Homo sapiens: one gene and its partners. The protein of the gene in region 1 purifies or fractionates together with the protein of each later gene. This does not show direct contact. Each region holds a gene or a part of one and is shown on either strand. Other genes may lie near its edges. The genes, in order: TIGD7, PRMT8 and UACA.

Region 1 (8,841 bases):
GTTGATTTGGGGTTGGGGGAAATTATAAAAGACCTTGAGGGATTTTGTCCACAGCAGGGAATGGAGACACTTTCCAGGCAGAGGGAAGGGTAGGAGTAAAGGCTTTAAAAGCTGGAAACATTAGACTGTGAGATCTTAGGTACGTTTTTACTGAGTTGGGCTGCATTTAGAGGAAGAGTTTTAAAAGTTAGAAAACGAGTTTATGTGGCACTTATACTGGAGTCCTTTGAATGGGAATGAAAAGAGTGCATTTAAGAAAGTAAATCCTGGCCGGGCGCGGTGGCTTACGCCTGTAATCCCAGCACTTTGGGAGGCCGAGGCGGGCGGATCATGAGGTCAGGAGATCGAGACCATCCTGGCTAACATGGTGAAACCCCGTCTCTACTAAAAAATACAAAAAAAAATTAGCCGGGCGTGGTGGTGGGCGCCTGTAGTCCCAGCTACTCGGGAGGCTGAGGCAGGAGAATGGCGTGAACCCGGGAGGCGGAGCTTGCAGTGAGCCGAGTTCACGCCACTGCATTCCAGCCTGGGCGACAGAGCGAGACTCCGTCGCAAAAAACAAAACAAAACAATACAAAAAAGTAAATCCTGGAGCACCATTTGAGCGTTTTGGACTGAGCTGCTTTCTATGGCAGTTCATCTAAGGTAAGTTTAAGGTGAGAATGAAGATGAGAGGCCATTACCAGGCCATTATGCTATTTTTGCTTTTGGATGGGATGGTATGTAACTCCTCTTAGGCATAGATCTTGATCCTTTTTAAGTGAGAGAGAAAGATAAACAGATTTAATAATGAGCATCTGCCTAAGTCACTTGAATTTGTGTCTAAGTAGGTTCATTTCCTTAAAATCTCAGCCAGGTTGGGACTTCATTTCTTCAGCAGTAAATATTCTCAGTCTATCAGAACCAGTGGACAGTAGCGCCATCAGCATTAAGATTCTCATCACCTGGCCCAATGCTGAATATATAATTAGAATTTATTAAGTTGAATAAGTGAAGTTCTGCTAGCAGTGCTAAGCAGTGCCCTTGGATATCATTGACAGGCCTGATTCATAACACAGGAAGTTGGTTAAAGGGAAAAGGGATTCATGGGAAAAAGAGGCAGCAAGGCACAAATTGTGAATAGTGAATAAGAGGCACTGGTGATTTTCATTGTGTGAGGTTTGCTGCCATAGTGGCTTATCCTTTGAAGCCCACAAACATTCCTTGAGCCTTTCCTTTTGGTTTCACCTCCCCTTGCTTGGGCACTGTTTTAGAAATGATGACTGTGGCTGGGCGCAGTGGCTTACACCTGTAATCCCAGCACTTTGGGAGGCCTAGGTGGGTGGATCACTTGAGGTCAGGAGTTCGAGACCAGCCTGGCCAACATGGCAAAACCTTGTCTGTACTAAAAATATAAAAATTAGCGGGGCATGGTGGTGCGTGCCTGTAATCCCAGCTACTTAGGAGGCTGAGGCACGAGAATGGCCTGAACCCTGGAGGCAGAGGTTGCAGTGAGCCGAGATTGTGTCACTGCACTCCAGCCTGGGCGACAGAACCAGACCCCATCTCAAAAAAAAAAAAAAAAAAAAAAGACGACGGCACAGCTGAGAAGCATTGAAAGCAAATACATTAATTCTGAGACACCTACACAACTGTCATAGTGGCCTGAATATTTTTGCTAGGTGACTAGCTTGAGTTAATGGTGCTGCTATTGGCTAGCAAATACTTTTTTATTTTTCTATTTATAAGTGAAAGAGATAAACCAAGATTTATGTCTGAGTTATCACTTACTAACTGCCTTAATTATAGTTGCCTCATTTAGAAAGTTGCTTGATCGTAGCCTGCCATTGGCTCCACCCCCTAATTACTACCATATTCTCTTGTAATCTTCTCCATGCTCTATAACTCATAGTTGGCATTTCTTGCAATGAATGTTACAGGAAAACCAGTGGTCTGACTCTTCTGGGTTTTTAGATGAGAGACCTAAGAGAATTCTATGGGCCAGGTGTGGTGGCTCACGCCTGTAATCCCAGCACTTTGGGAGGCTGAGGCGGGCGGATCATGAGTTCAGAAGTTCGAGACCAGCCTGGCCAACATAGTGAAATCCTCTTTACCAAAAAAATACAAAAATTAGCCGGGTGTGGTGGCACACACCTGTAGTCCCAGCTACTCAGGAAGCTGAGGCAGGAGAATTGCTTGAACCCGGGAGGCAGAGGTTGTAGTGAGCCGAGATGGCGGCATCGCACTCCAGCCTGGGTGACAGAGCAAGACTCTGTCTCAAAAAAAAAAAGAGAGAGAATTCTATGTAGTTGAGGAATGAATGGGCCAGTCAGATTCTGCCCTAAAGAAGAGGAAGAATAACTGAGATACCAGCCATTTCCCTTATTTCTCTGACATACTTTTCTTTCTTCGTAGCACCTGGAATGGATAAAAGTGGCAGTTTTTGTTTCTTCCCATGAGGTTGTGTATCTGGACTGAGAACCAGGAAATTAATCTAGACTAAGACATTTCTAAGGACCTGGAATGGCTTTGGGGAGCACCAGGAGGACCCGAAAAGAGTATTTGAGGGCCTAGAGGGACAGAAGAGTTTGCCAGTAGGATTTATGAGAAACAATTGATCAGAAACAGCAGCAGAGAAACCTTTTAGATTTCTTCTGTGGAAAAGTTGAGTCTTGGTTCAAATTAAGTAAAATAAACACTGAAGAGAAATCAAAATCTCAAATATAAAAAGTATGTTACTTATAGTGTAAATTTAGGAAAACAAATGAAAGGACAGATCTTTAAAAATTTTTAACTATGGTGAAATATTTGTAAAACTTTTGGGCTCATCTCTGAGAATTGCTGTGATTCTGAAACTTGATAATATCTCAAATAGAGAACAGTTTCAGTGAAAAATAGCACTTGAGAATAAATCAGATGTTCCCAAGAAAGAAGATCTGAGAATGGTAAAGTGCCACTGACAAATAAATTATTTACATACTTACATATTACCTTGGCAAACACAAGAGACATTCAAGTTAAAGCACGGTGCTTGACAATACTATATTGAATGCAATAAAAGTTGGATTTCATTCATATGTACAACAAACTACTTTCTTCTTCACTTCAAGATTCGGTACAACTGTTCCTGAATTCCAACTCTCCATACATCCCAATGTCAGGGTCCCTGTAGCTCGGAGCCCTTATCCAGGTAGATGAACTGCTGCCCAGTGAACACTATGTACAAAGCAATTTGAGCACCATTCTCTTTTCTGGCAGTGAGGTAAAATCAGGTCTTTTTGGAAGGGGAGAAGCCACATTGCATCTCTGCTACACACAAGATTACTCTGTCATTGCCTTTGAGTCTTTCACGCTCCCTTCTTCTGAAGCATCAGTTTTTATGGAAACTTATCACACCTGTCTTGTGGGCACATCTTGCTCCATCCCTCCTCTCTTCATATTGTCCGTTTTCCGGTATTGAGTTAGGGAAAGTATGCAGGTATTCCTGTCATTCCTGACTGAGGCTGTTGTATCTGTCAAAAGAGAGGAGAGGTAGGGGGCATTCTGAAAAATGATCACTCATGGCTTGCAGGAGCAAGAGCCAGACAGGACTTTGCAACTGGCAGCTTTCTGAGTGCATAAGACCTCCACCTCTAGACTAGCTCTTCAGTCATGGTTAGCCCCTTCAGTCCATTATCCTCCAATACAATGCCCATGCCTTCTGGGGCTTTCAGCTAAGTTTTGTTTAAAAAATGTGGGTTTTTTTTTTGCCAATTCATTAAGGCTTTTCCCTTTGTTTTCTCCTGTTGGTGGTTCAGAGTTAAATTCAGTATGAATAAGAGAGGGAAATATACAACACTGAATTTGGAGGAGAAAATGAAGGTTCTAAGTAGAATTGAAGCTGGACGATCACTTAAAAGTGTAATGGATGAATTTGGAATCAGTAAGTCAACATTTTATGACATTAAAAAAAATAAGAAGTTAATTCTGGACTTTGTACTGAAGCAGGACATGCCATTAGTAGGGGCTGAGAAGAGAAAGAGGACAACGGGAGCCAAATATGGTGATGTAGATGATGCGGTCTACATGTGGTACCAACAGAAACGCTCAGCCGGTGTTCCGGTAAGAGGCGTGGAGCTTCAGGCTGCTGCAGAGAGATTTGCACGGTGTTTTGGGCGAACAGATTTCAAAGCTAGCACTGGTTGGCTTTTTAGATTTCGAAATCGGCATGCAATTGGGAACCGAAAAGGATGTGGGGAACAAGTCCTAAGTTCAGTTTCTGAAAATGTTGAGCCATTTCGACAAAAACTGTCCATGATAATCAAAGAGGAGAAACTGTGTCTAGCTCAGCTATACAGTGGGGATGAAACAGACCTCTTTTGGAAGTCAATGCCAGAAAATTCTCAGGCAAGTAGGAAAGATATCTGCCTACCAGGGAAGAAAATAAACAAAGAAAGGTTGTCTGCCTTTTTATGTGCAAATGCAGACGGAACTCATAAATTAAAGTCAATCATTATTGGAAAATCAAAACTGCCCAAAAGTGTGAAAGAGGACACAAGTACATTGCCTGTGATATATAAACCCAGTAAAGATGTTTGGTTCACCAGAGAATTGTTTTCAGAATGGTTTTTTCAAAACTTTGTTCCTGAGGTCCGACATTTTCAACTTAATGTTCTAAGATTTCATGACGAGGACGTCAGGGCATTGTTACTTCTGGACAGTTGCCCGGCTCATCCTTCCTCTGAATCCCTAACCAGTGAGGATGGTCGAATAAAATGTATGTTCTTCCCCCATAACACTTCAACCTTGATTCAACCAATGAATCAAGGTGTGATCTTGAGCTGCAAACGGCTGTATAGATGGAAGCAACTTGAAGAGAGTCTTGTAATATTTGAAGAAAGTGATGATGAGCAAGAGAAAGGAGATAAAGGAGTTTCCAAAATTAAAATCTACAATATAAAAAGTGCAATTTTTAACTGGGCAAAAAGTTGGGAAGAAGTAAAACAAATAACCATAGCAAATGCATGGGAAAATCTTCTTTACAAAAAGGAACCTGAATATGATTTTCAAGGCTTAGAACATGGGGATTATAGAGAAATTCTTGAAAAATGTGGGGAGTTGGAAACTAAGTTGGATGATGATAGGGTGTGGTTAAATGGAGATGAAGAAAAGGGTTGTCTCCTAAAAACCAAAGGTGGAATAACAAAGGAAGTTGTTCAAAAAGGAGGAGAAGCTGAGAAGCAGACTGCTGAATTTAAATTATCTGCTGTAAGAGAGAGTTTGGACTACCTTCTTGACTTTGTTGATGCCACACCTGAGTTTCAGAGATTCCACTTCACACTGAAAGAGATGCAACAAGAAATAGTCAAGAAACAGTTCCAGAGTAAAATCCATTCTAGAATTGGTAGCTTTTTGAAACCTAGGCCTCATAATATTAAGGACTCCTTCAGTGGGCCTTCAACTTCTGGTTCTAATCATTAGATTTTGTGTTTAAAGATTTCTGCCATTATATGATGTAGGCCAGCTGTGAATTGTCTTGTTTTAGCAACTGACATTATTTTGTATATCAGTGCCCATTTATATAATGGTTATAAAATTTACAGTTTGAAAATAATACATTTGTGTTTCTTTAAATTTATTTAAATTTGTGTTTCATAAATTCATTTTTTTAAATTTTACACAAGGATCTGAATAATGAAGTATTGTCCCAGATTATCTAAGGTGGAATGCCTTTGCGAAAAGCATTAGTTTGTAATCATATCGTATAACAAAGAAACTGTGCTGACTAGTTCTAGTTAGCTTTAAGATAAGGATAAATTAGGTTTTCAATTTAATGGTAAAACACACTCTGCTTTCTTAACTCTGTTACTACCTATTTAGTGTTTGTTTTCCTCTTACTGTGAAAGTAACATGCTGATTATAGGGAATATATAAAAAAAGATAAAAAGCACTCAATTCTATTGACTAATGATAACCTCAACACTTCGGTGTATACCATATATTTTTTAAATAGGCAGATTACATTGTAAATAAAACCTTATCTCTTACTGTCTTAACATATTTTATGGTTTGTTACTAATACGTTAGCATTTATTGAGTATATAGGATCGTATATATATGTTAGTCTTCATAATAATGACTTCCCTTTTCAAATACATAAGGAAACAGATTTAGAGAGATTAAGTAACTCGACAAAGGTCACATAAACTGGTAAACAGCAGAGGTGAGACTTAAATTCTGTTTAATGCCAAAGCTCAGGCTTTTAACCATCATACGGCACTATTTCTGAGAGTTTCCCTTAGGTCATTAAAATCTCTTAACCTCACATTTGATGGTTTTTTAATACTCCACCAGGGGATGTAACGTATCAGTTGAACTACCAGGTCAAATAGAATGAACTTTTGAAAAAGCTGCGATACACGCTGTTAAATTGCTTTCACATTCCCACCATTATTTTGAAAGTACTTCTCCCAATGCACCAATCCCAACATTGAATATTGTTAAGCTCTTAGTTTTTGCTAATTTTGTAACCAAAAGAATGGTATCTTTATGGTTGTTCCCTATTTAATATAAGGTGTCAGGTGAGTTGATATTTGCAAATAACAAGCTTTGTTTGGATAATTAGCTCTTATTGGCTTTCAGTGTTTCCTTTCTCATATATTATCTTCAAGAATCTGTTTCTGGCCGGGCGCGGTGGCTCACGGCTGTAATCCCAGCACTTTGGGAGGCCGAGGAGGGCAGATCACGAGGTCAGGAGATCGAGACCATCTTGGCTAACATGGTGAAACCCCGTTTCTACTAAAAATACAAAAAATTAGCCGGGCGCAGTGGCAGGCGCCTGTAGTCCCAGCTACTCGGGAGGCTGAGACAGGAAAATGGCGTGAACCTGGGAGGCGGAGCTTGCAGTGAGCCGAGATCGCGCCACTGCACTCCAGCCTGGGCGACAGAGCGAGACTCCGTCTCAAAAAAAAAAAAAAAAAAAAAAAAAAGAATCTGTTTCTGAGATGGGTATTCTGTTACACTGGTGAATACTAGGCAATTATAGTATAAAATTAGTGACTAAATACAGAACTACTGGGGTCCACTCTTGCTCTAGTACCTTGCCATTTTCATTACTGGCTAATATGAATTTCTCTTTTTTTTTTTTTTTTTGAGATGGAGTCTCGCTGTATCACCCAAGCTGGAGTGCAGTGGCACGATCTTGGCTCGCTGCAACCTCCACCTCCCAGGTTCAAGCAATTCTGCCTCAGCCTCCTGAGTAGCTGGGATTACAGGCGCGTGCCACCACACCTGACTTGTATTTTTAGTAGAGACGAGGTTTCACCATGTTTCTCAGGTTGGTCTTGAACTCCTGACCTCGTGATCCGCCTGCCTCAGCCTCCCAAAGTGCTGCGATTACGGGTGTGAGCCACTGCGCCCGGCCTGTGAATTTTAATGAAAAGCAAATGCCCACTTTCCATGTTTGAAAATATACAAGCTATTCTTACTATCTTAAGTCAACTTCAGCATAAAATTTATTCAAGCCTCCTCCAGACACCAACTCCCTCTGCGAATTTATTCCTAATTTAAGTAAAATTGGAAAGAATTTACATTACTTTTCTCTCCTTTCAAATTGTAAGTGCAGTTTTCATTTAATGGAGTTCTCATTTTTTTTATTGTTCCTAGGTAGGTTTGTTGTTGCTGTAAGTGGGTTCCTTTTTTATTAGTAGTGATTGCTGATATTTTCACCTTGTAAATTCAGTAGTTATCTTTTTTGTGCCTTATTTATTACCCAGAACTTGTAGAAAAAATATATCAACATTGCCACTGGGCATCCTTTTTACATTCAGTTTAGGCTTGATTTGTGCTTTCTTGCCTTATTCAGTCTGCAGCCTGGTGGAAGATGGGAGACCTTTAACATCAAGCAGCTTGACTTTTTCTTTTTTTAAGATTAGTCCATAATGACTGCAAGCTGGGGTTGGGTGAGGGCGAAGGTAGTAATTACTCTTTGCTTGATGTTTTGCCTCTTTTGAAAGACCTTCCAAGCCTGGGACAGGATGGATTGTGGAAGTGGAGGGGGATGGCAGATGAGGACTCTGGGCAGCTCTCTAGTTCCTTTTAGTTTGGGTCTTTGCATCAAACATCATCATTCTTTTTAGTGATAATAAATTCCTAGAGTGACCGAGAGTCACCCCAGTTTTCAAAAGTACTCATTGATTCTGGAAACTTCCTGTTAACTGTTTCATGTACTAGACAATAGCATGTTGTTGGAGATTCAGCTCTGAATAACCAAGAAAATGAATGAGAACAAACCACCATGGGATGTGTAAGGGCCGGAGCCAAAGTGAGCATAGGGAGGGCCTTTGAGACTTGGATAGCAGGGGAGGTGTCTGAGAGGACAGTGCGTGACTTTTGAGCTGGGTTTAAAGTTGTGAAGCAGGGGCTCAGTCTCTGCGGTGGGCACGTGTATCTCCCAGGCAAGCTGCAAGGTCCCTGGACCGTTGCCTTGGGGGCCTCTGGCGGAGAAGAGCAGGAAAGACAGGTCAAGGCTAGTGTCCCTGGGGGACATCCTACGAGATTTTAGACGGGTCTCGGCCCACGTAAGTCTTGACCGCTCCACCTCCTGGATCTCTCCTCTCCACTCTTCGTCCTCACTGCCCTGCCCTGGTCCAGGCTCCCTTCGCCTTCTGCGTTGACTCTGCCTCTTCAGTTGCCCTGCCTTCCTTTTCTGTCCCCTCTCCATTCTTGCCCGACCCTTATTCTCTTACCAGAAGAGAGCGAACTAAAACAAAAAGGGGAGCCTCGGGCTTCAGACACTTCGTGGGCCTCCCACTGTTTAAAGAAAGGCCTAGCCCCTAGGGCGGCCCCGCGCTTTCCTGGCGCCCGCTCGCACGCACCCCAGCT
Region 2 (11,718 bases), on another chromosome or scaffold:
GTGCTCTTGGATGACTTAGTTTATGTGCCTTAGTTTCCTCATCTATGAGACAGGAATTAGTGGTCATACATTCCAGGGCCATTGTGGGGATCGCATAGTTGCTGTTTGTATAACTGTGGCACTCTGGAGTCAGCACCTTACAGGATCCTGAGAGCTGACTGTGAAAGTTTCAGTAAATTTGCAGAATGGATGCCATCATTGGCCATGGTGGAAGTATCTATACCACAGAATTCAGCAAAGGCGACAAACCAGGGCTTCTATCTCCTGGAGAGCCGGTTGTTAAGTATCTCCAGCACACCACTGTATAAAACACAACAGCATCCGGTGGGCACTAAGCAACCAATAAACATTAGCGGTTGTTATGATTATTCCGTTTATTAACTTGACTAATAACCATATCAAAAAAAGAAATGAGACCAATCATATGTAATTATTTTTAATGAGCCTGTAGTAGTGACTGCTGGCAACTGCTACTTCCTTCCCTAACAGCTCGAGAAACAACCCATTAATAATCTTCAAAGTGAGTTTCATGTATTCATCCTTTCGAGTATTATTGAGCCACGTACTAGGTCCTGTGTCGGGCATAGGGGAGTTCGTGGTGTGACTAGCACAGACAACATCTTTGCTCTCATAAAGCTTACAGTCTCGGGGGAAGACAGACATGAAGGCAAGCGAACAAACAAAATCACAACATCATCACAAACTGTGAACGTGCTTAGAAAAAAACAGCATGGAATAATTGAGAAAATGGGGATGTGTTTTTTCCAATTGGGTGGTTGCAGGGGCATGCTGGCTGTCACACACTGCCTGCCAAGAGCCAATTGCGTGCGCTCATCTCTTCTCAACTCTGCCTTGAATGACATCATCTGTGTCGTTAGCTTGAAATTGGCTATGGTGGAAGTATTTACACCACGGACATTGGCGGATGCTACAAACCGGAGCTGTTTTGTTTTCCCTTCTGGAGACCTAAAGGTGAAGATGGGGCCATGCTGAGAGCAGTGGGAAGAGCGTTTTACCTGCCTGTATACATTCCCTCAGGTGGGAGATACTTTCTGTCCCATGGAAGCTTCTGCTGCAGGGAGAGAGTGAAACCATTCCAGATAGAGAAACTTGGAATGGTTTTCTGAATACCTGAGCCCTGGGGAAGCTTTGGTTGCCCTTTACATTCCCATTGATTTCAACCACTCTACCCAGTACCAGTGCCTTCTTGATAACCCCTGCTCCCCTTTGGCCAAGCCCACATGATCATCTGCTTGTGGCCATGGTGCTGGGTATCTGCCAGGCTGGACCACAGGTGGGGTTCTAAGTGGTGGGTGATGATCTCGGGTGGGAAGAGTCCTGGTATTGTTCTGATTCACTGAGTACTCCAGCCACTGCCTAAGGGAGGAGAGAAACCAGGCAGGGTCTCTGGCCAGGGAATGGCTCTGGCAAAGCTAGCAGGGCTTTAGAGCTCCAGCCAAGCACGTTGGGCCCTGAGCCCTCAAGAGAGCCAGAGCGGGCTAGAACATGAAGCCAAGCAGATTACACAGTGAGGACAAAGCAGACCCTCGAGTCCTATGTTCTCGGGTGAGTGGGGGATTTGGGCAGGGAGAGGGGTACTATATTGTGGAAGCGACCACCCTGAGGCTTCATGACACCGGGGGCTCCCTTATGCCACTGCAGCAATAGGGTCAGTTTGCTGCAGGACATAGTCCCAGTCCCACCATTCATGGAGGGTAGAGATATCGACATCCTTTTTCCCATCACTCCTGACCAGCCGCAGGAGAAGGGTAGGTTAGTCCTTTGCCTTCTCTGATTTCTTTTCTCTCAACATCCCAAGCAGTTGCTCCATGTCCACAAGAATCCCAGGTGGTAGGGAGGTCAGATATACACCCATTTGCCGGGTGAGGAAAGGAACCACGGAGAGGCACAAACATGCACAACAGGCCTAGGTTCAGCCCCCACAACTTGACTTCTCTAAACTCCAGTTCACTCCTTAGGCAAAAATAATAATAAAACCAAGCACACAAGTTCCTAGGAGGATTACTGAAGTAACATACGGAAAATCACTCTGCAAGCTGCTATTCAAATGCTAGTAATTTTTTACTGTCACAATTAGGACTAGTTTGAATATCTTTTGTCTCTTAACCCAATGCCCCCCACCTTTTTTCCTTCAACATTGCTCATTCATCCATCCATTCATTGAGTAATGATTCTGAATGTTTGTGAGGAGTCAAATGCTCCGCTATATCCTGGAAATAGGAAGCTAAAATAGACAACGAAGAGAAGGAATGCATACGCTGGAGGTGAGCCGGGCCCTCCGCAGGTGCAAGGCAGCCAGCATGGGTGTCACCAAAATAGGTGTATGAGCAAGGACCAAGGGAGTGGGGAGGGCGAGCGAAGGGCTTTGCTGCAGTGGGGTTGGCAGGGGGGTCAGGGGGCTTCATAGGCTCATAATATGTTCCCATGCCTGTGACCCTCATGCCTCCTCTTGTGTGGCACAGGACCTGCTCTCTGAAAGAGTGAGGACCTAAAAATGATCACTAACTTCAGATCCTACGGGCATCAGCTGACCCTGATGGATGCACTGGAGGCTCAAATGAGGTTGAGCTGGCCTGATTTGTTTAAAAACAAAAATGACCATTAATGAGAATGACTAGATTTCTGTAAGAACCACTCAAACCAAAAAGAAAAAATTCCACTCAAAACCATTTTTAAAAATCTGGATGTCTCACTTACAAACTTGAAGCTACAGGAGAAGTTTTCCCAATTTAGAGTCTATTGCTCCCTGCTGTGCATTTAGTTCTGATTAATCATTCTGTAATTTACCAGCCAGAGTCCTGTCATAGTTCGTTGAACAAACTTTCCATCATCCTTCTGGAATAAAAACATGGATCCGGACGGTGACCTCAGTGCAACCTTGAGTTGATGCAGTTTTAGTGACTTGGGGTCCAGATTGGGCATGGAGCTCTGCAGCCTACGGCTGCTCGGAATCTTAATATCAATAGCTTAGACCCCCTTGAAAATCCTTTGCATGGAGGAGAAGGGAAGACTGCTGCTGTGTGTGCCCACACACTTCCTTGAGCCAGCCTAATGCCCTATGTTGGCCAATAGCCCCTAGTAAGTTGGCATATGCCCCACCATGACAGGTAGCATTTTGTAGATTGGAAAATTGAATCTGGAAGTTTAAGTGGTTGCTGGTGGTGACTACAGACTGCAGGAAGAATATTCATGGTGATTCAGCTGGACAGTTGTATTTGGCTGCACAGAAAGAATGTGACCTCTTAAAAATAAAAAATAAAAGGACCCAGGAAGTGTTGAAAATGACAGTCAAACTGGAACTTGGAGGCACCATCTTTTTTTATTGATGCCAGCTGTCTCCACCAGTGAATCTTGCAGAATGCCTTACACATAACAAGTGCTCAGTACACATTTGAAGAACCGCAGCTTTCTGGCACTGCAAAGAATTTCAGATTCAACCTCCCTTCTTTTTTTTTTTCCTAATGAGGAAAATAAAAGAGAGGAGATGTTTGATTGAGATTAGCTGTCACCTGGAACAAGAGCGTAAGTTGCTGCCTTTTAGGATTCCAGCATAAAGTTGTGCAGGTTGAGCACAAAAGCACCGGAGAAAGGGGATAAATGGAGTCTAAAAGCCAGTCCAGCACTGGATTGAAGGGAGATGGGTCCTTTTCCTTTGACAAAGGGCTCATCTCCTCACCAAGCCAACTGTGGGGCCATGTCCACACTGAGAAATGTCTGCACTTGAATAGATGTAGAAGGGTGATGTTAAGAGAACAGAAGTCCAGACTGTTGAGGATTTTATAGGGTTAACTGATTCCTTCTGCCTTTTTGCAAGCAGAGATTGTGATTTTTGCTATTCTGTGACCCCCTATATCTAGCTATCATCTATCTGTCTTCTATATCGTCTGTCTATCTATCAATCATCTCTTGTAATCCATATTGATGAGGTTACAGCAACTAATTGATAAGAGGGCTAACACAGAGAACATGAGCAGCAGTAACTCTCTTTGGGGGACACCTGAGGAATATTTCATACATACCTGTTTGTTAGACTTGATGATGGATTACTCCTTGTCTGTTTCCTGCAGCTCCTAATAGAGTCCTGTCCACAAAAATTGTCATGGGTGGAGCCTTGTACTAAACACTCAGGGTAGAGGTCATGAGGCCCCGGAGGCAGGAGAAAACATCTTCTAGGGCTACAGAGAGGTCATGATATAAATGCAGGAGGAGGAACTGACCCATAGCCACACAGACACAGGCAGACATTAGGGAAGAACCTTCAAGAAACGTGCAAAGAAAAAAAAGTAAGGGAGGCCATTAAAGACAATTTTTAAGTTTACAAAACTAAGGCAAGCCAGGCTTTGCATGCAAATGATTAGGCAGGTGAGTCATGCATATATTTGTCAGTTCTCTTTCAAAATAAGAAATAAATTAGGCACAATGTTTGCATTTTAAAAAATCCTTTACTTTGCCACTCTATGAATTTTCTTAGTGCACCCTGGGCCCTGCTCTCAGTTGAGTTCCTGCCCTGGGGTCTCTGAGACCCAGAGAAACTTCAACACCTACCCCTCCCACTCCCACCAAAACTTTTGGAGAATAGCTCTTCCTGCTCATACTTTTTAATGGTAGGGGCTTTTGAGCAGTAACCAGTCAGGAGGGCCACCCAAGACTGAACCTCACTGTAGAGTGACCAGGGTCAATGCATGTGTACAAAGTGTCTTACTCCTTGTAGAGCAGGCTGTATCCAATTAAAGCTTGATTAAATACCACATAGTGGAGAGTAAACTGTTATTAGAAGCTGCTAATGGACACTCCATCACCTGCATTATTCACTGTGAAGAAACTAAATAAAGCCAGCAAACGGTGTGCTCTTTGCCATCCAGGAGCCTCAGTCCAAATTAATTTTCATGAAACTCAGATTCTAGGCAGATGTGGTTCTTTTGATTTTTACTCCTAAGTACAGGCCATTGTTTGTTTTTCCCAGCAAAGCTCAGGCATTGTGTGAGTTTTTTTCAGAGGATATTGCAGAATGAGAGTTTCAGAGCATGAATATATGTAACCTTTCAAAGGAAATGTTCAGAAAGAACAAACCAACCAATACATCAGCCTGCCAATTTAACAGTGGTATCTAAACTAGCTTGCTCAGATCTTTACAGCAACAAATACAAAAAGGGACTCCAAAATTATGTGTATGTCTATGTCAGTTTATCAAAAACTCAACTAAGAAGTGTCTCCTCCCACAGAGGAAACTGAAGTTCTTGAAGGTGACTCATAAGAAGAAGCCACTGGGGACAGGGGCTTTGACCCTGGCCCTATCTGCTTCCCCTCTCCATCTGTGGATCAACAAGCAGGAATATGTCAGATAATGTCCACCTTCTGTTGAGCTTTAGCTATGGGCCTGGCACTCCACATGTGTTATTTCATTTGATCAATACAATCACCCTCTAAATTGATATTGCTTTTCATGGTTGTTCACTTGGGAATTGGAGTTTAGTTAGGTCAAGTAACTTGTCTAAAGTCGTACAGCTAATGGTGAGAAGATCTGGCACTTAAACCTAGGTTTCCCTGACTGCAGAGCCCATGCTCTCATCAAAATATCAATTTCCTCCCTCACAAACACTAGAAGGGCACCCATTTGGTATTGAGCCTGGCTGTGAACAAATGCAAAAGCAATAGAGGAGGCATCTATGCTTTCTTTGAGTTTGAATTGTCATGGTAACCTAACATAGGGGTGGGGGCCTTGAGAAGAGTTTTAGAGTCATGTCATATCAGATCTGGGCTCTGTTTCCACTGCTGCTACTCAACCTCTCTAAGCCTCGGTTTCCTTAGTTGTAAACAAAAATAACAGTTGACCCCGACTACCACAGGGGTTAGGGGTGCCAATCCCCCACACAGTTGAAAATCCAAGCATAATTTTTGACTCCCACAAAAGTAAGCTACTATCAGCCTACTGTTGACCAGCAGTCTTGCTGATAACTTGGTCAATTAACACACATTGGCTGGCTGTGGTGGCTCATGCCTGTAATCCCAGCACTTTGGGAGGCCGAGGCGGGTAGATCACCTGAGGTCAGGAGTTTGAGACCACTCTGGCCAACATGGTGAAACCCCGTCTCTACTAAAAATACAAAATTAGCCGGGCGTGGTGGCACATGCCTGTAATCCCAGCTACTTGGAGGCTGAGGCAGGAGAATCGCTTGAACCTGGGAGGCGGAGGTTGTGGTGAGCAGAGATCACGCCACTGCACTCCAGCCTGGGCAACAAGAGTGAAACTCCGTCTCAAAAAAAAAAAAAAAATTAACACATATCTGGTATATGTATTATATACTATATTCTTACCATAAAGTAATCCAGAGAAAAGGAAATTGTTAAGAAAATCCTAAGGAAGAGGAAATATATTTACCACTCACTGAGTGGAGTGGATCAGCATGAAGGTCTCTGTCCTCATTGCCTTCACATGGAATAGGCTGAGGAGGAGGGAGAGGAAGGGCTGGCCTTGCTGTCTCAGGGGTGGCTGGAAGAGGTGGAAGGGGAGGCAGGCACACTTGGTGTAAATAAAAAAAAAAAATCTGCGTGTTCGTGGACCTGTGCAGTTCAAAGCCAGGTTGTTAAGGGTCAGTTGTAATGTGCTTACCTCACAGGGCTGTTGGAAGGATGACGTGATACCACGCATATAACGGGCTTAGCGCTATGCCAGGCACATAGTAATGGCTCAATTTATTTTACAGGGAAAACATGCAGGTAGTTTTCAATTATGTTGGTATAAACTAGTTTGGTAAAGGGTGAGCTACATCATATCCTAAAAGTAGAATCAGAATAGGGCTGAAACCTGGAGATCTGGCCCTGAAGTGAGGTGCTTGTGGTTCCTGGGTGGGGTCCCTGCAAAGTATGGCCCTGGGGTTCTTATTTTCCAGTCATCACCATATTTAAGGGTAAAGTGGAAGAGGTGGAGCTGCCTGTGGAGAAGGTGGACATCATCATCAGCGAGTGGATGGGCTACTGTCTGTTCTATGAGTCCATGCTCAACACGGTGATCTTTGCCAGGGACAAGTGGCTGGTAAGTGTCCTGCATGCTGTCCCCGCGTTGGCCGGCTGGCTGTCCTGCTCCTCTACCCAAGGCCTGCAGCCTAGGAGGCATACGAAGACTTCAGAGAAGACTGAGGCCAGGAGGTCACTGCCCCAAGCCCCTCTCTCTAGAGCAGATCTGTATCAGGGAACAGAATGGTTGCCCCGGGTCCAGCATGTGTAACCATCAGAGTGGACTTCCGTGGGTCTCACCGCAGCCTCTTTTGCAATAACAGACATCCGTTCTCTCTTGTCGAGTTAAAGGTCCGTTTCGGTCAGCAAGTACTTAGGACTTGCATGGCTGCCAGAGCCAGGTGTGCTATTCATCTGGGCTTCTCCAGGCCAAAGTCGTAACATCTCTCACTGCTCCTCACTGGATTTACCTTCACCTCACCTCATTTGTCCTATTGACTCCACCTAGGTCCCTTAAATTTTCCTTGCTCCAAAATAAAAATTGAGCACTGCTGTCCTAGCCCTCACCCCAGACAAGGTGACAGTCCACTGCATGAGAGATGGTGGCAAGGGGGTGCTTGTCTGGTGACTCTATGTGCAGTTCAAAATGTGATGTCTTTGTCAGGTGAATAGATTACGAGACCCATTTCCCCACAATTCATCAACAGAAACCTGGAGGGCTTATGTTTCCAGACCGGGCAGCTTTGTACGTGGTAGCGATTGAAGACAGACAGTACAAGGACTTCAAAATCCACTGTAAGTCCCCTCTTGCTTCTCCGGTGGACTTCCACTGCACAATTGGGGTGGGAGGCACTCCAGTGGGCCCGAGATGAGCAGGCAGTGACATGAACACCATTGCTGTCCCTGAAGAGGAGCTTATCTGGGACCCTTTCTGGAGTCTGCTCTCTAAATGTTTCTATCTAGTCCCAAGGGTGTTAGGTCTACAGACAGAAAATAAGCCATATGGCTGGGATGAGAGAAATGTCCTGGGGTGAAAGAATGAATGCAATGTGAATTAAAAATTGGACTGAGGCAGCAGAAGCTGAGTTTTTGCAGAGATCAGCAGGGCAAGTGGCTTGAAACCTGTCAAGGTTCAGTTAGCCCAAAAGTCCACCGCAGGGGTCTGAAGTAGCAGGTCTCTTGCCAGGCCAATTGTTTTGAATCCTGCCTCCATTCCATTCAAACTTATCAAAATAATATTGATTCTCTTATGCAAATACATATTATTTGAGGTTCTTTTGAGGAATAGATAGCAGAGGGGGTGGGAAAGAGTGGAGATTTTGCTTTGAACAATCAAACGAAAGGCGAGTGTGCATGTGTGCATGAGGCAGGGGCTCGTATCTAAACATGTATTCTTAATGCCTTATCAGCTAGGCGTGTGTGGTTCTCTGAGAACAATAAAGCCAAAAAACTTCTCCTCCCCCGCAATGTTTTACCTGGTCTGAAAAGGGCTGTTATCCTATTTCTCGTAAAGGGTGACACTTCTCTGTGACACAGGCCTGATCCTTAATGAGATTATACCAAACATGTTTTTGTAAAGTTGAACATGGCTGTGTCTCCTCAACCAGAACCAAATACAACAAAGGAGCAAAGAACCCCTCAAACAGGCAAACACCCAAAAATCCAAATTAAAGCAAGAGGCAGAAGCTCCAACCTATCCATCAGACTGGGCACATCTGCGGTTCCTGCCCCAACAGGGTGGTCCATTCCTACTTGGCAAGATTACTGTGGAGGGGTTCACAGATTGAGTAGAAGAATAAATGCCTCCAAGAGGCTAAGACTCCATCCACAGTTCAACAAATTGTGGCTCTGTGGATTTAAACAATTGCCATCTAATCGTCGTTAGTGGCACTGATGAAAACTCGGCTGGACTCTGCTATGGATGTGTGTATTTGTGTGGGTTCATGCCTTTCTGGAAATATAAACTCAAAGTGTGAAGTTCAGAGCCAGGTTCAGAAGAAGACAAAAGTGGGACAGCTGTTTGAAGCTCTGTGCCCTGGAAACCGTCTCTGGTTGCTGTCTGCCTCCAGCCAATCTGGTGTGATTTCCACTATTTGACCTCCTGGGGGAAGGAGGCAAAATACCAAATGAGGACAGTGAGAGGCAGGGGGGCCCAGGTTAAATGCTTTGCACACTGCCAGCCCTGGGTTTAAATCTTGGCTTTGCCATGTCCTAACTGGGTAACCTTGAGCAAATTATCTAATACCTTTGGGCCTCAGTTAAGGGATAATTTTCTCAATCCCACAGACTTGTCATGAGGATTAAGTGAGATGACATATATTAAAGGACGTGACAGTTCTTGGTCCTATAATGGGACTAGATGGGAACTAGTTTCTGACTGTGTAGCTAAGCCCCTTTCTGCCCCTGGCTCTGGCAAGTGAGCCTGACTGCCAAGCCCCTGGTGGCTCAGAATCTAGGACAGATGTACTCTCATGGAAGATTGCAGACACAACTCCACAGTGAGTGTTGATCAAATGCATGTATAAATAGGACATATTTTGCCCTGGAGCTGCATTTTGGAGTTCTTGCTGTGCAATTGTACTGAATAGTGTTTTGAGGAGGAAAGCTTCTAGGTACATTCTTCATTGTCAAGTTCACTTAGATATTTATTGAGCTCCAACCCGAGGCACACCTCTTTAAGAAACTTTCTCATGGTTTCCACAACAAAGATACCTGTGTCAGGAGCCTTTGCAGGTATGCACATTGCAATGAGCCAGCCTGGGGCAGGGAGGGGCTCCTAAGGCACTGGCCCCAGACTGGAGATCATGTGATTTCTTTGATTCTCATTGCAGTGTTCATACCTTTTGGAAAAGGAAAAAAAAAAATCTGAAAGTTAGCACCATGTTATCTTGTGCTTGTTCTAGAGTCTCTGAAAAATACCCCAACCTCCTCCCCACCCCAAAAGAACACCAAGAAACAGACACTTAAAATGTATTTAAAATACATTTTCTATTTACATTTTTGAAAATAATCTATTTTTTTGTAAAGGAAGCAAACCCACTTAGAAATTCATTTCAAATAAATGGAGACTTTGGTTACTATGAGTTCTAAATCAGAAGTAAAGCACAAAGGTTGCTGGTTGCTAAGGCAACAATTGTAAGCAATTTTCTATTGGCTCAAGAACCAGCTAAGAAGGAAAAATTTTGAAATGAGGCAGGAGAGTGAGACATGTTCAGCCCCTTTCAGAAAGTAAGTTGTTAGAGGGAGAGCTTTCTTTCCTTTCCTCTCCTTTCCTTTTCTTTTATTTCCTTCCCTCTCCTTCCCTTCCCTCCCCTCCTTTCTTCTTCTTTCTCAACCACACACAGCAACATGGGAGTGCAAGAATGAGGTCAGTGCAGAACCTGCCCTCCATTTGCTCACCAATGAATAGAGACCACATAGAGACAGAGATAAATATCTGGCATATACTAGGCTCACAATACATAATTTTAACGAAGGAAGGAAGGAAGGAAGGAAAGTGAACCAGCAGAGGGATGTGCAAGGTGTAGTATTTAACTCTTAGAGAGGAGCAATCATTTTACACACATTTTCTACTATAAAGGAAATACACAGAATTTCAAAAATGGAAGGAAACTCGGTGGATGTTCTATTCAATTTCATGCACAACCCATGAATTGTACCCAGTGCATGAATCTACACCCTGCTGAGAATGAGAGAGATGGGCACCAGTTTCTTGGCTGATGAGAAGACTGAAAGAAAGACCTCATGCAGAGGTGGCAGTGCTTATAGCTTGATGGTTGAAGGGCGGCCCTCTTGGATGGCTCAGCTGCTGTCTGTGGGCTTCACTTCCACTCATGACATCCAGAGTTTCCTCTGGTTCCAGCCCATTTTATGCAAGGATTCCACTTTCTTCATGAGAGCCTAAAATGTGTCAATCTAGTGTAAACACTTTCCCTTCTGCACAGAGGAGAATCTGTAAGTAGCATCTGGTGGCACTTGTTCTATTTTTCTCTGACCTCATTCTGAGGCAGTCCCATTAGCCTCATCAGAGAAACTCAGATGGTTGGGGCTGGGGTGGTGAGGGAGGATGTAGCTACAGCTCTCTGCAATCAGAAATCACATTTCTCCCCTGGTACTTAATTTTCTTTCCTCAGACTGTTTTTGAGATTTCTGTCTTTATTGATTTTCTGCAGTTTGATTCTGATGTGTCTAGGTGTGTTTTTCTTTTTATTTATCCTGCTTGGGGTTACATGGAATTCTTGGAACTGTGGATGGATTGTTTCGTTAGTTTAGAAAAATTTCAGCCAGTATCTCTACAAATATTTTTTTCTGCCTGATTATCTTTCTCCCCTTCTTCAGGAACTCCCATTATATGAAATAATGTTTGATATTGTCCTATGGAGCTTGGATCCTCTATTTTTTTCACCCCTTTTTTCTCTTTGTGTTTAAGTTTGGATCATTTTTATTGCCCCGTTTTCAACTTTATTGGTTATTCCCTGATATATTCATTCTGTTAATAAGTTCATTTTAAAAAGTCTTCTTTCCTTATATTGTTATTTCGATTTCTAACATTTCCACTGGCTTTTTTAAAAAGTTTCCATCTCGCTAATGAAATTCTCCATTCATTGATGCACACTGTCCACCTTTTCCACTAGCTTCTTTAACATACTTAGTATAGATACTTTAAAGTCTTGTTGGATAATTCTAACATCTGAGCATCTCTAAATTTGGTTCTATGACTTTTTTCTTATGATGATAAGTCAT
Region 3 (11,718 bases), on another chromosome or scaffold:
GGCTCTTTCGGTGCTGACCTGCAGCGCGGCCTCAGTGTGCGCGCCAAGGAGTAGTCGGGGCCTCTTTAGTTGGCAGGAGAACAGAAATCTTGAGAAACAGCCTGACCGCAGATGTTGTGATTTAGATAATTTGTCACGTTACAAGAATGGCGATATCATCAAAATTCTATATCATTAAAATAAGTGCCACTTACAAAGTCTTGGAAGAGTCGAACGTAAAGGAGTTGTTATGCTCCAACTGCACAGTTACCTAGTTGGGGTAATTAAAATGAACCTTTACAATTCAACGCAGATTTTACCAAATGATTATATTCTTTTTATCAGAATACTAATTAATCTGCTTCTGCTTTTTTGAGTTAATTCAGTTATGCCTTTCTCTCCACCTATATCGAGGATTATTTTACTTGGACATAAAGGAAATTGTGGAGGAACTACCTAGACTTAAATTCCTATTTCAAAAAAAGAGAGTAGATTCAGATGACGTAATTGATGTTCTTTGATAAAGCATGAAGTCGTTTTATAAGCTCATGGAAAACAGAGATTACTTTGTTTCACTTTTTTTTTTAAAAAAAGTAACTGGCAGAAATGTCATTTAGTGATATTGGAGTTCATTACAGTTAAGATTCTACTTCTGTAATGCAAGTTGTGTTTTTAGCCTTATAGAAGATACAAGTTTCTAGATTTATTAGCTTTGTTTTCCCTGGTTGTGTTTGATTTGCACTAAGGATGTAAATCCCACTTGGAGGTTTATATGCCTTAATTTTATCCAGTTTTCTAGAAATGCAGAGTATTTAGTAGGTATTATCAGCATGATAGTTTGCATTTTATACATTTGGAACATAAAGTGCATATCTCTGAGCTTAAATCTTTAGCACTCAATTGAGCGTTCTATTTTTCTCAAAATGACATAATAAAGATAAACATGATATTAACCTATTTATGTAGAAAAAGCAAACATTTCTGTTTAAATATTAGAATAAGTTCTGTACAATTTAAAAATAAAAGCGTAATGAGGAATAAAACTTAGAATGAATTCTGTAAAATTTTAAAATAAAACTGTAGTGATGAATAAAACCAAACCAAGCATTGATAGAATAAAACACATGTACAGGAGAAATAGACCCTTTCTGCTTTTCAATCTATAAACCATAATCCCAGATTTGGTCACATGTATATGTATTTATTGTATGATTGGGCCACCCTTTTTTTTTTTCTTTTTGCCTTTAAAAACAGTTATTTTTTGAATAGGTAATATAGCACATGGTTTAATATTGGAAAGGAATAAAAATATTTACAACAAAATATCGACACCGTGTTTCCCTAACCCCTGCTTCAGCCACCCTGCCCCCACTTCCTGAGGCCACTGATGATACAGTTGCTTGCATGTTCCTCCAGAGAGAGCTTAGCATATACAAGCAAATATGAATATAGTCACCCTTTATAGAAATGCTAGCACACTGTAGCTGCTGTTTCATATCTTGGACTTTTTTTTTTAAAACTGTAAATAGAGGCTCCCCATTCATATCTTTTGCTGTAATGTACAATTCTGTGATTAATATTCATATTTCAAGTGTGTGTCTGTACCTGTAGGATTAATTCCTAAAAGTGAATTGCTGGGTTAAAGGATATGTGCATTTGTAATTTTGAAGGATGTTGTCAAGTTTCCTTTCATGCATCATGGAACCAGCATATGAGAAATGTTTTCCAAGCTTTTAATAGAAGTCTGTTCAAAGTTTTTGACCTTTGCTAGCCTGATAGGTAAGAACAGTTTATCCTTTCCATTTTTCTTTTTCTGTTTTTTTTTTTTTTTTGAGACGGAGTCTCGCTCGGTCGCCAGGCTGGAGTGCAATGGGACCATCTTGGCTCATTGCAACCTCCGCCTCCCAGGTTCAAGTGATTCTCCTGCCTCAGCCTCCTGAGTAGCTGGGACTACAGGCGTGCACCACCACGCCAGGCTAATTTTTGTATTTTTAGTAGAGACAGGGTTTCACCATGTTGTCCAGGATGGTCTCAATCTCTTGACCTTGTGATCCACCCGCCTCGGCCTCCCAAAGTGCTGGGATTACAGGCGTGAGCCACTGCGCCTGGCCTGTCCTTTCCATTTTTCTATTGGGTTGTCGATATTTTTCCCTATTCATTTGTATATACTTTATATCAGGGAAATTAGCCCTTTTCATTTGAATAATATTATTTCTTAATTGGCTGTTTGTCTTAAGACATTTTTATGGTGGCATTTGCTGTGCAGAGAAGGTGGTTATTTTTATACAATTGAATTTATAACCTTTTATGATTTTTAGGTTTATGTAATATCTTGGCCTTTCCACTCTGCGATATTTAATATTAAACAACCCCCCTCCCCAACTTTCTTCTAGTTTTTTTTCTTTTTTTACATTTAAGTCTTTGATACATAAGATACTTATTATGGTGTTAAAGTACATCTTACTTTCTTCTCTTTCCTCTATGGGTACTTAATTTGGGTCTTAAACTGTTCATTTAATTATTTTGGAAATAGTCACTATTTACTTTGCACAACTTTGATTTGAGATAAAATTTTAAAATGTTTATTTCATAAATAATTTCCTTTGTGTATTTAAGCTTATTATCTGAAGAAGACACAGCAGTAGACTGAGGTATGTGACATATGCAGTATTTTATTACATAATATGTGGAATACAGCATATTAGCTTAGCATGCTAAATTAGAATTATGTGCAGATTATGGGCAAAAGTAGTAATTTTGAATATTCTGAATAGTACTATTGTTATAAATATGCCAATGAATTTAGAGTTTACTAAATGGGAATGTTTGTACACATATAAATGTAGTTCACAATTACAAATTCTGGATAAACTACATTTGTGGATTAGTCCTTTACTAGCAAATCTGGAGATGGCTGCATCTGTTAACCATAAATGAAGAGTGTTTTTATTGTTACATTTATTATTTATTTATTTATTTTTCGAGATGGAGTTTCACTCTTGTTGCCCAGGCTGCAGTGCAATGACGTGATCTCGGCTCACTGCAACCTCCGCCTCCCAGGTTCAAGCAATTCTCCTGCCTCAGCCTCCCAAGTAGCTGGGATTACAGGCATTTGCCACCATGCCCGGCTCATTTTGTATTTTTAGTAGAGAGGTGGTTTCACCACATTGGCCAGGCTGTTCTCAAACTTCTGACCTCAGGTGATCCGCCCACCTTGGCCTCCCAAAGTGCTGGGATTACAAGCATCAGCCACCGTGCCCAGCCTGTTACATTTATTTTTAATCACTTACTAAGTTGGAGCTTCGGATTTCTAAAAGGGATAATTAGATGACTATAAATACTGTACCAGATCTGGTTAATTGTGTGTTCAGTTATATGTATAGTGAGAATATGCTTGTTCCATTTTCACCTAGTTTAGGAAATTTAATATAAATTAAGGGACTGTAATTCCAGAAGTAGTAGAAGTGCTGCAAACAGATATTGTAAGCAGACATTTTAGAAGGGGATTCCACTTTAAATTGGATTGCTTGAGCCCAGGAGTTCGAGACCCGCCTGGGCAACGTGGTGAAATCCTATCTCCACAAAAAATACAAGATTAGCCCGACGTGATGGTGCATGCCTGTGGTCCTAGCTGCCTGGGAGGCTGAGGTGAGGGGATCACTTGGGCCCAGGAGGTCAAGGCTGCAGTGAACTGTGACTCCAGCCTGGGTGATAGAGGGAAACCCTGTCTCCAAAAACAAACAAACAAAGTCGTAGCAGAGTACTTTGATTGTAGAAGTAATCTCTGACCTGAGAGGTTCTGTAGTGATTATTTTTGCTGCCCTTTCTCTAGGCTGCTCTTAAAATGGGGCAGTGAATTTTATAAATCAGAACTAAATATGTTTTAAAGCATCTTGCTATAATGCCTCAGCACTGCGAAAAAATACTGGTATTTCTAAAAGAATTTAGAGTTACAAATATAGCAACTGAAAAAAATCTTCAAAAACATTTTCTGTTTCCACTAATAACATTAGTTTGAGATGTTTAGAAAGCATAAAGGATTAAACATGATTTTGTTTTAGTTGTTGATTTTGAGAATGAGGGCTTTGTGTTTTCCACTGAGGGATTTGGGTGCATTTGAAAAGATCTTAATGTTATTCTCATAACAGCGACTTTTGGGTAATGTAAATAAGATAACAAATTGTTATGTTTAGTTTAAACTCATGATACTTAAGCACTGTTTACTCATTGTCATTAACTATTCCAACCTTAAATTAAAAATGCTTACCTTAATTAAAGCTGTATTCAGACAACTTCCTATGGTTATCCCTGCGTTGAATTTCTTGTGCTTCTTGAAGGAGGATTACAATAAAGAAACCCTTCTTTTATAGTTTTTGATTTCAACCCTCACCCTGCAGCAAGTTTATTCAGAACATTATGTTGATTTGAATTGCTGAATTTTATTGTAATACCAAAGCAGAGTGGTTTGGTGGGTCTTTTGGTGCATAATGAGTCCAGGAACTTTAGGTGATGAGTAAAGGATTTTAATTAGTTTTTTAATAAGGATGGTGTAATGATTATATATACTTATGGTACATCATATGCATTGTTCAAATTAAAAATGATTAGTTCAGGAAGTAGACTTTGCTCAGCAGTTGCCTTATTTAGTTTGGAAAACATTTATGGAACACATAGGCTCAATAATGGATTAATTAGGTCCTCTTCGAAGAAATGGATAATTCCAAGTTGAAAGCAGAAAGTGTGGAGGATGAACTTGGAGTGCCCTTGTCATGCTGGAGTGTAAAGAGGCTGTCAAAGATTAGGACTCTGGAGCCAACTCCAAGAGGCTCTCAGTTGCCCAAAGATGGGACAGTTTGATCATCAGTAAGAATAGCAACTGTAGTGCACTGAAATCCTTAAATCCATGAGTTTGTAATGATGACCAAAAGAATAAAAACAACTCTTGACTTTTGGAGGATGCTAGGAAAGTGATGCATTCTTTCAAGATCAGGAAAATAAAGGGAAATAATAAAACATTTATTGTGCATTTCCTGTGAGAACTGTATCTCAAGGTAGCCAAATAGCTGATAAGAGGAAGTGTCTGTTTTAGTTATACTTTACTGCCACTAATAGATGAAGAAGGGATGATGTAATTAGTATATCATGTATTCTGTCCCAGCTAATATATGAAGAAGGGGTGATAGAGTTAGTATATCATAACTTTACAGCTCCTAATGAATTAATGAATCTAGAGTCTATAGACATGATTGTCAGAGGCTACTAATGTCTCAAAAAGAAAGACAAGCTGGCATAATATATCTTGTGGTGGAAATACTTATTACCACCTATTAATAGTCTTGCCAAAATAATCACCCTTTAGCTATAACCATGATTTTGTTTATTGTCATACAATAATTTTGATTATTGTCATACAGGGAACAAAGGAAGATAGGGATGCAATCAGCAAAATTCTGATTGTGGAAATCTATGGAAAAATGAAATGGTTTCTTAAAAATTATAAATTGTAAGAAAAGGAAAAAGAGGAGAAACCTATGGATTACAAGAGATTTAAGAGATTAAAATGCATACTAGCCAATTGCCGTGATGGACTTTATTTAGATCCTGATTAACTACTTGTAAAAAGTAAAAGTTTATGAAACAATCGAGGAAATATAATCATCAGCTGGATACTTGATGATATCGAATTATTTGAAACATTTAAATGTGACAGTGGTAGTAATGTGGCTGTGTTTATAAAGAGTCTTTATCCTTCATTTTATTTTTTGGAGATGAAGTCTCACTCTGTTGCCCCAGCTGGAGTGCAGTGGTGTGATCTCTGCTCACTGCAACCTCCGCCTCCCGGGTTCAAGTGATTCTCCTGGCTCAGCCTACCGAGTAGTTGGGATTACAGCTGCCCGCCACCATGCCTGGCTAATTTTTGTATTTTTGGTAGAGACAGGGTTTTGCCATGTTGGCCAGGCTGGTGTTGAACTCCTGACCTCAGGTGATCCACCTGCCTTGGCCTCCCAACGTGCTGGGATTACAGGCATGAGCCACCTCGCCCAGCTGAGTCTTTATCTTTCAAAGAAATATTTTGGAGTCTGGGATTTCCTTCAAAATAATCTTTGGGTGGGTGGGGATAGTAAGTTGGGGGTATAGTTGCAATAGGATTGGTCTTGAGTTAGTAACTGCATTTGGGGCTGGGTACAGTGGCTCATGCCTGTAATCTCAGCACTTTGGGAGGCCGAGGTGGGCAGATCGCTTGAGGTCAGGAGTTCGAGACCAGCCTGGCCAACATGGTAAAACCTTGTCTCTACTAAAAGTACAAAAATTAGCTGGGCATGGTCATTTGTAGTCTCAGCTACTAGGGAGGCTGAGGCAGGAGAATTGCTTGAACCTGGGAGGCGGAGGTTGCAGTGAGCTGAGATCATGCCATTGCACTCCAGCCTGGGCAACAGAGCAAGACTCCATCAAAAAAAAAAAAATTGCGGCTGGGTGGTTCATGATGCTTATTCACTTTTGTGATACTGTTGTATTTAGCGTATGTCCTAAAATTTCTGTACTGTAATTAGAAAGAGCTAGTCACAGCCTTCAAGAATTTTAAGAGCTAGATATAAAAAATAAATGAATATGGCATGTTAACAGTTATTATAGAAGTCGGTATAAATTGCTGTGGGGGCACATAGAGTGTAGAGTGAGCCCATAAAAAGGTTGAAAGGTAGAGTGTGAGCTTGGGCCAGAAAGACAATTTCAGTGGCTTTCCAAGCAAAAGAAGAGCAAATGCAGTGGTATGGAGCTGTGAAATTATACAGCTGAGGGAGCATCAGATTTGGAAACTAATTCTGGTTTTATGGTAGAGGATGGCACAGATGAGGCATAGACAAATCTTCAAATAAGAATTCTATTGAAAATAGGGAGTTAGAGGGCGTGCAGCTTGGGGATTGTGGTAAAGGAAGGTTTTCATTCATTCTTTTTTTTTTTTATTTTTGAGAATAAGTCTCCCTCTTGTCGCTCAGGCTGGAGTGCAGTGGCGCAATCTTGGCCCACTGCAACCTCTGCCTCTCGGGTTCAAGAGATTCTCTTGCCTCAGCCTCCCGAGTAGCTGGTACTACAGGCTCCTGTCACCATGCCTGGCTAAGTTTTGTGTTTTTAGTAGAGATGGGGTTTCACCATGTTTGCCAGGCTGGTCTTGTACTCCTGACCTCGGGCGATCCACCCACCTCGGCCTCCCTAATTGTTGAGATTATAGGCGTGAGCCACTGCCCCCGGCCTCATTCTTTTTTTTTTTTAAACCTTGAATTAAAATTTAAATTACTTGACAAGTTTAGATCACTGTTCAGAGAGAACTGACTAGTCATGAAAGTTTCATCTTCAGAAATTATCCTATTAGTGAGTTTATAAGTTCATCTTTCTGCTTCTCCCTTCCTCTCTAGAATTAGCTAATAGCCAGCAAAATTTTGATTTTATCAGCCCTGTTTAACTTATGTTTGTATCTTTGGTAAACTAGATCCAAGAATAATAGATTTGAACGTTATAACATGTATTGTTTCATCACTATCATATGGAAACTTTTACTGTCCTGTTACAGTTTTGCAAATGTTTGTCCTGCCACCTAAAGGATACAGCATATTATTGAAATTTCCACCTGCACGTGCTTATTTATGCAAAGGAAGTCAAATTGATTTCTGTGGGGAATTTGCCTAAAAATGGATGGTTGAAATGTGCTGCCTGAAATTATAAATGGAACAATAGGATATAATACTCATTGCCTTATTTTCCTTAATCATAATACAATTAAAAGCTTTATATAGCTTTTATATCATTAGAAAAGATAATGTCTCTTCCAGGCTTAAAAATGTAGCCCCAAAACACAAGAATAAATTGGATTGTTTGTAGTCACACAAACAGTTTTGTCTGTTGGCTTTGTTTTATTGTCAGAAATCCTAAATATTGTTGACATTGACTTATTTTCAAATGATACAGTCTCCAAGATGATATGCAGAAGATGAACTGATGTAGCTGAGTGACCAAAGGCACTGGCAAAGGATCGATGAGTTGTATTTTTATACAGATGCTCCTTGACTTATTATGGGGTTATGTCTTGGTAAACCCAGTTTAAGTTGAAAATATTGTAAGTCGAAATGCATTTAAGACACCTAACCTACACAACATCATAGCTTAGCCTAACCTTCTTTAAACATGCTCAGAACACTTAGCCTCCAGTTGGGCAAAATCATCTAACACAAAGCCTATTTTATAAGAAAGTATTGAATATCTCATGAATTCAATACCGAATACTCTATTGAAAGTGAAAAAACAGAATAGTTGTACGGGTACTCAAAGTACATACAGTTTCTGCTGAATGCATGTAGCTTTTGTACTGTTGTAAAGTCAAAAAATCCTAAGTCTAACCATCATAAGTTGGGGACTGTCTGTAATTGAATGGGACCTGGCCAGGTATCCTTGAGAGAGCGCAGGTGAATGTCTCAACCAGTTAGGATAAATGACTGTCCCACAAAAGTCATACATGTTCATTGTAGAAAACCAAATATAGGCTGGGCGTAGTGGCTCACGCCTGTAATCCCAACACTTTGGAAGGCCGAGGTGGGCGGATCACTTGAGGTCAGGAGTTCGAAACCAGCCTGGGCAACATGATGAAACCCTGTCTCCACTAAAAATACAAAAATTAGCCAGGCATGGTGGTGGGCACCTGTAGTCTCAGCTACTCGGGAGGCTGAGGCAGGACAATGGCGTGAACCTGGGAGGCGGAATTTGCATTGAGCCGAGATCGCGCCACTGCACTCCAGCCTGGGCGATGGAGCGAGGCTCTGTCTCAACAGCAACAAAAAAAATTATAAGTAATTTGAAATTATTTGAGCACATACAAATGTCCCAATTAGAAGTACTCAGTAAATGCTAGTGAGTTACTTAGAAAGAAACTGCTTGTGAGAAATCCATGTGCTGATAGCCAAGATTTATTGAGCATGTATTTCCCAGGCATTGTTCTAAGTGCTAGTAACTCAATCCTCACCGCAACCCTAAGAAGTAGGTACTATTGCCATCATTTCAGATGCAAGTTAAATAATTTACCTGCCCAAGACACTATAGCTAATAAGTGAAGAGTTAGGTAGCCTGGCTTTGGAACCCATGTCCTTACCATTGTGAACTGATGTTTCAAATTTAATGCTATGGGATTTACACCTTAAGCCATATATACAAAAAAATTGGAGAAGGGGAGAGAGGAGGCATTTTATGGGAAATTCCAAAACCAATCTGTGTTCCCTCCAGAGATATGTGGAATTGTTGCATTCCTGATATCCTTCCAATAATAGATTCTGTTATTTAAAACATTTTTAAATGTGATAGAAAAAAATAGTTTGGCTTAATCCATGTTTTTGATTTCCAGGGAGGGTGAACATATTTCTGTGCTTATTGGCTGCGTTCATTTCTTGTTTTAGGAATTGTTCATTTTCTTTGACCATTTTTTCTGCTGATGCCCTGTTCATGTTGATCTGTAAGAGCTTTATACGTCCTTATTTTTGCTACTTGGCCAGCCGTCGCTTTAGAGTAATGTCTGTCTCACTATAGCTGTGCTTCTGTTACCTTCCCTGATATTTAAAACAGTTTTTGTTTCATGTATTTAATTTTGTGATAATTGATACATTAAGGTTCTTGGCTATTTTATATTCATTGTAGAGTGTAACTTGTCGTATAAAAGCCTCTAATTTGTTGCATTATAACTTTTGTTTTGAATTCTACATTGTTAGATATTAATACTGTCACACTGCCCCTTCTGTCATTTTGCTTTGTATGCATGTATACTTACCCAGTATATTATACTGTCATCCTTGGTTTTATTTGGAGGGGTGTGTGTGTGTGTATCTACAACTGTGTACACTTTTGAGGAGATGATGCGTTTTTAATATTGACCATATTTATATATTGTCAAGGTTTTTTATATTACCTCTGTAGTAAGGTTTTCCCTTGCAGATGCACAAATCATTTTAAAAAAAAAATCTCATTGACTCTTGTTTAATTTTCTTCTTACCAGATTGTGACATTTTCTCTTTACTAGAGAGAGACATTCCAAGAGAGCTCTAGAGAGAGAGAGAGATAAGTGGTGGGGGGGAGGGGAGAGAGAACAAGAACACATATAATACATCATGCTTTCTACACTTTTAAAAAAGTAGGAGTGTTTAACTTTTCTTCCAGCATGCTGTTATTTCATATGGTTTTCGCATTAGCAGGGTGCCTACTTTGTGCAGATGTTGAGGTACTTTGAAAATGAGTCCCAGTGGGGAGGCCCTGTGGGTGTGGTTGTAGTAAAGCCAGTACACTCTGATCTTTTCAGCTGTGTATAAGAATAGCCCACAAACACTTCCTGATTTACACGTGAGAAGTTTTTTTTTTTTTTTTTTTTTGATGGAGTTTTGCTCTCGTTGCCCCAGGCTGGAGTGCAATGGCGTGATCTTGGCTCGCCGCAACCTCTGCCTCCCGGGTTCAAGCGATTCTCCTGCCTCAGCCTCCCGAGTAGCTGGGATTATGGGCACGCGCCACCACACCCAGCTAATTTTTTGCATTTTTAGTAGAGATAGGGTTTCTCCATGTTGGTCAGGCCTGTCGTGAACTCCTGACCTCAGGTGATCTGCCCGCCTCGGCCTCCCAAAGTGCTGGCTCCCACAGGCGTGAGCCACTGTGCCCGGCCATGTTAGAGGTTTTTAAATGACAAATCCTTTTTAAATGATTCTTCTCTTTGTTTTTTTTTAAAAATTAACATTTTATATTTTAAAAAAGCACTTTATGAAATATAAATAGCATTCATGGCCATGTATAAGTAGGTAAACAAGGAAAATGAAGTGTTTCTCAGTCTTAGAAAAGACAATTGTGGGCCAGAGAATGTCCATTCATAGCTCTTGAAATCATACCTGGAGCAGCATGAAGGTGCAGGTTAGCACATTGATGATACAGGGTCAAACTCTGCAGCCTGCACGTCTTGGGTGTGAGCCTTGCCACTCCTGGTAACCAGCTTTGTGACCTTAGGCAAGTTACTTAAATATGTTTGTTTCTTCATTTGGAAAATAGGATTAATCGTTATACTTATTTCATAGAGTAGTTGTGAGCATTAAATGATACAAGGCATATTAAGGGCTTGCATATTAATACGGTGCTTTATATAGGTAACTCAATACATGTTTATATTGCTAACTGAAAAGTCTTACCAGAGGTCATGCCATTGTTGTCCTTTATAACCAGATTGACAGCAATCTTCCTAATCTTTTCCTTTCCAATTAATAGGCTTTTATATAGCCTAGATCTTCAAAAGTCCACCTGCTTTAGCCCTTTTCCTGAGGGAGATAAGTGGTATCTCTATTTTTCAATTATGAAAAAAATTTATTGAGCACTTGGGCTAAGCACTGCAGGGTGAGAGGATGAGGAAGATAAGAAGAGGCTCATAGTTTTGTGGGGGAGCTCCATGAGCAGATAATATAAGGTAATAAGTGCTGTGATAGAGGACTGTACAAGGTACTGATCTAGTCTGGGGCAGAAGAGTGGGGAGTCATTGAGGGTTTTTTTTGTAGGATAAGCTGCTGCTGCTGCTGTCTTTTAAAAATTGAGATGAGATTGTCAAAACATAAAATAAGTCATATTAAAGTGAACGATTCAATGACATTTAATACATTCACATTGTTGTATAACCACCATCTCTACGTACTTCCAAAACATTTTCATCACTCTAGAAGAAAATTCTGTATCCATTAA

What was found.
Region 2: the proteins of TIGD7 (region 1) and PRMT8 purify together in Homo sapiens (affinity purification with mass spectrometry; 2 studies listed by BioGRID and IntAct, with this or other methods). This does not show direct contact.
Region 3: the proteins of TIGD7 (region 1) and UACA purify together in Homo sapiens (affinity purification with mass spectrometry; 3 studies listed by BioGRID and IntAct, with this or other methods). This does not show direct contact.

Annotation. Positions count from the first base shown.
Region 1 is NC_000016.10:3,295,563-3,304,403, reverse strand, and holds the end of TIGD7 (tigger transposable element-derived protein 7), read left to right. Parts: intron 1-2,394; 5' UTR 2,395-3,789; coding exon 3,790-5,439; 3' UTR 5,440-5,596; downstream 5,597-8,841. Other genes in the region: ZNF263 (zinc finger protein 263), read right to left, coding at 5,294-5,298.
Region 2 is NC_000012.12:3,561,795-3,573,512, forward strand, and holds part of PRMT8 (protein arginine N-methyltransferase 8), read left to right. Parts: intron 1-6,911; coding exon 6,912-7,054; intron 7,055-7,639; coding exon of another isoform or gene 7,640-7,682; coding exon 7,683-7,770; intron 7,771-11,718. UniProt on the Homo sapiens protein: S-adenosyl-L-methionine-dependent and membrane-associated arginine methyltransferase that can both catalyze the formation of omega-N monomethylarginine (MMA) and asymmetrical dimethylarginine (aDMA) in proteins such as NIFK, myelin basic protein, histone H4, H2A and H2A/H2B dimer.
Region 3 is NC_000015.10:70,750,899-70,762,616, reverse strand, and holds part of UACA (uveal autoantigen with coiled-coil domains and ankyrin repeats), read left to right. Parts: intron 1-11,718. UniProt on the Homo sapiens protein: Regulates APAF1 expression and plays an important role in the regulation of stress-induced apoptosis. Promotes apoptosis by regulating three pathways, apoptosome up-regulation, LGALS3/galectin-3 down-regulation and NF-kappa-B inactivation.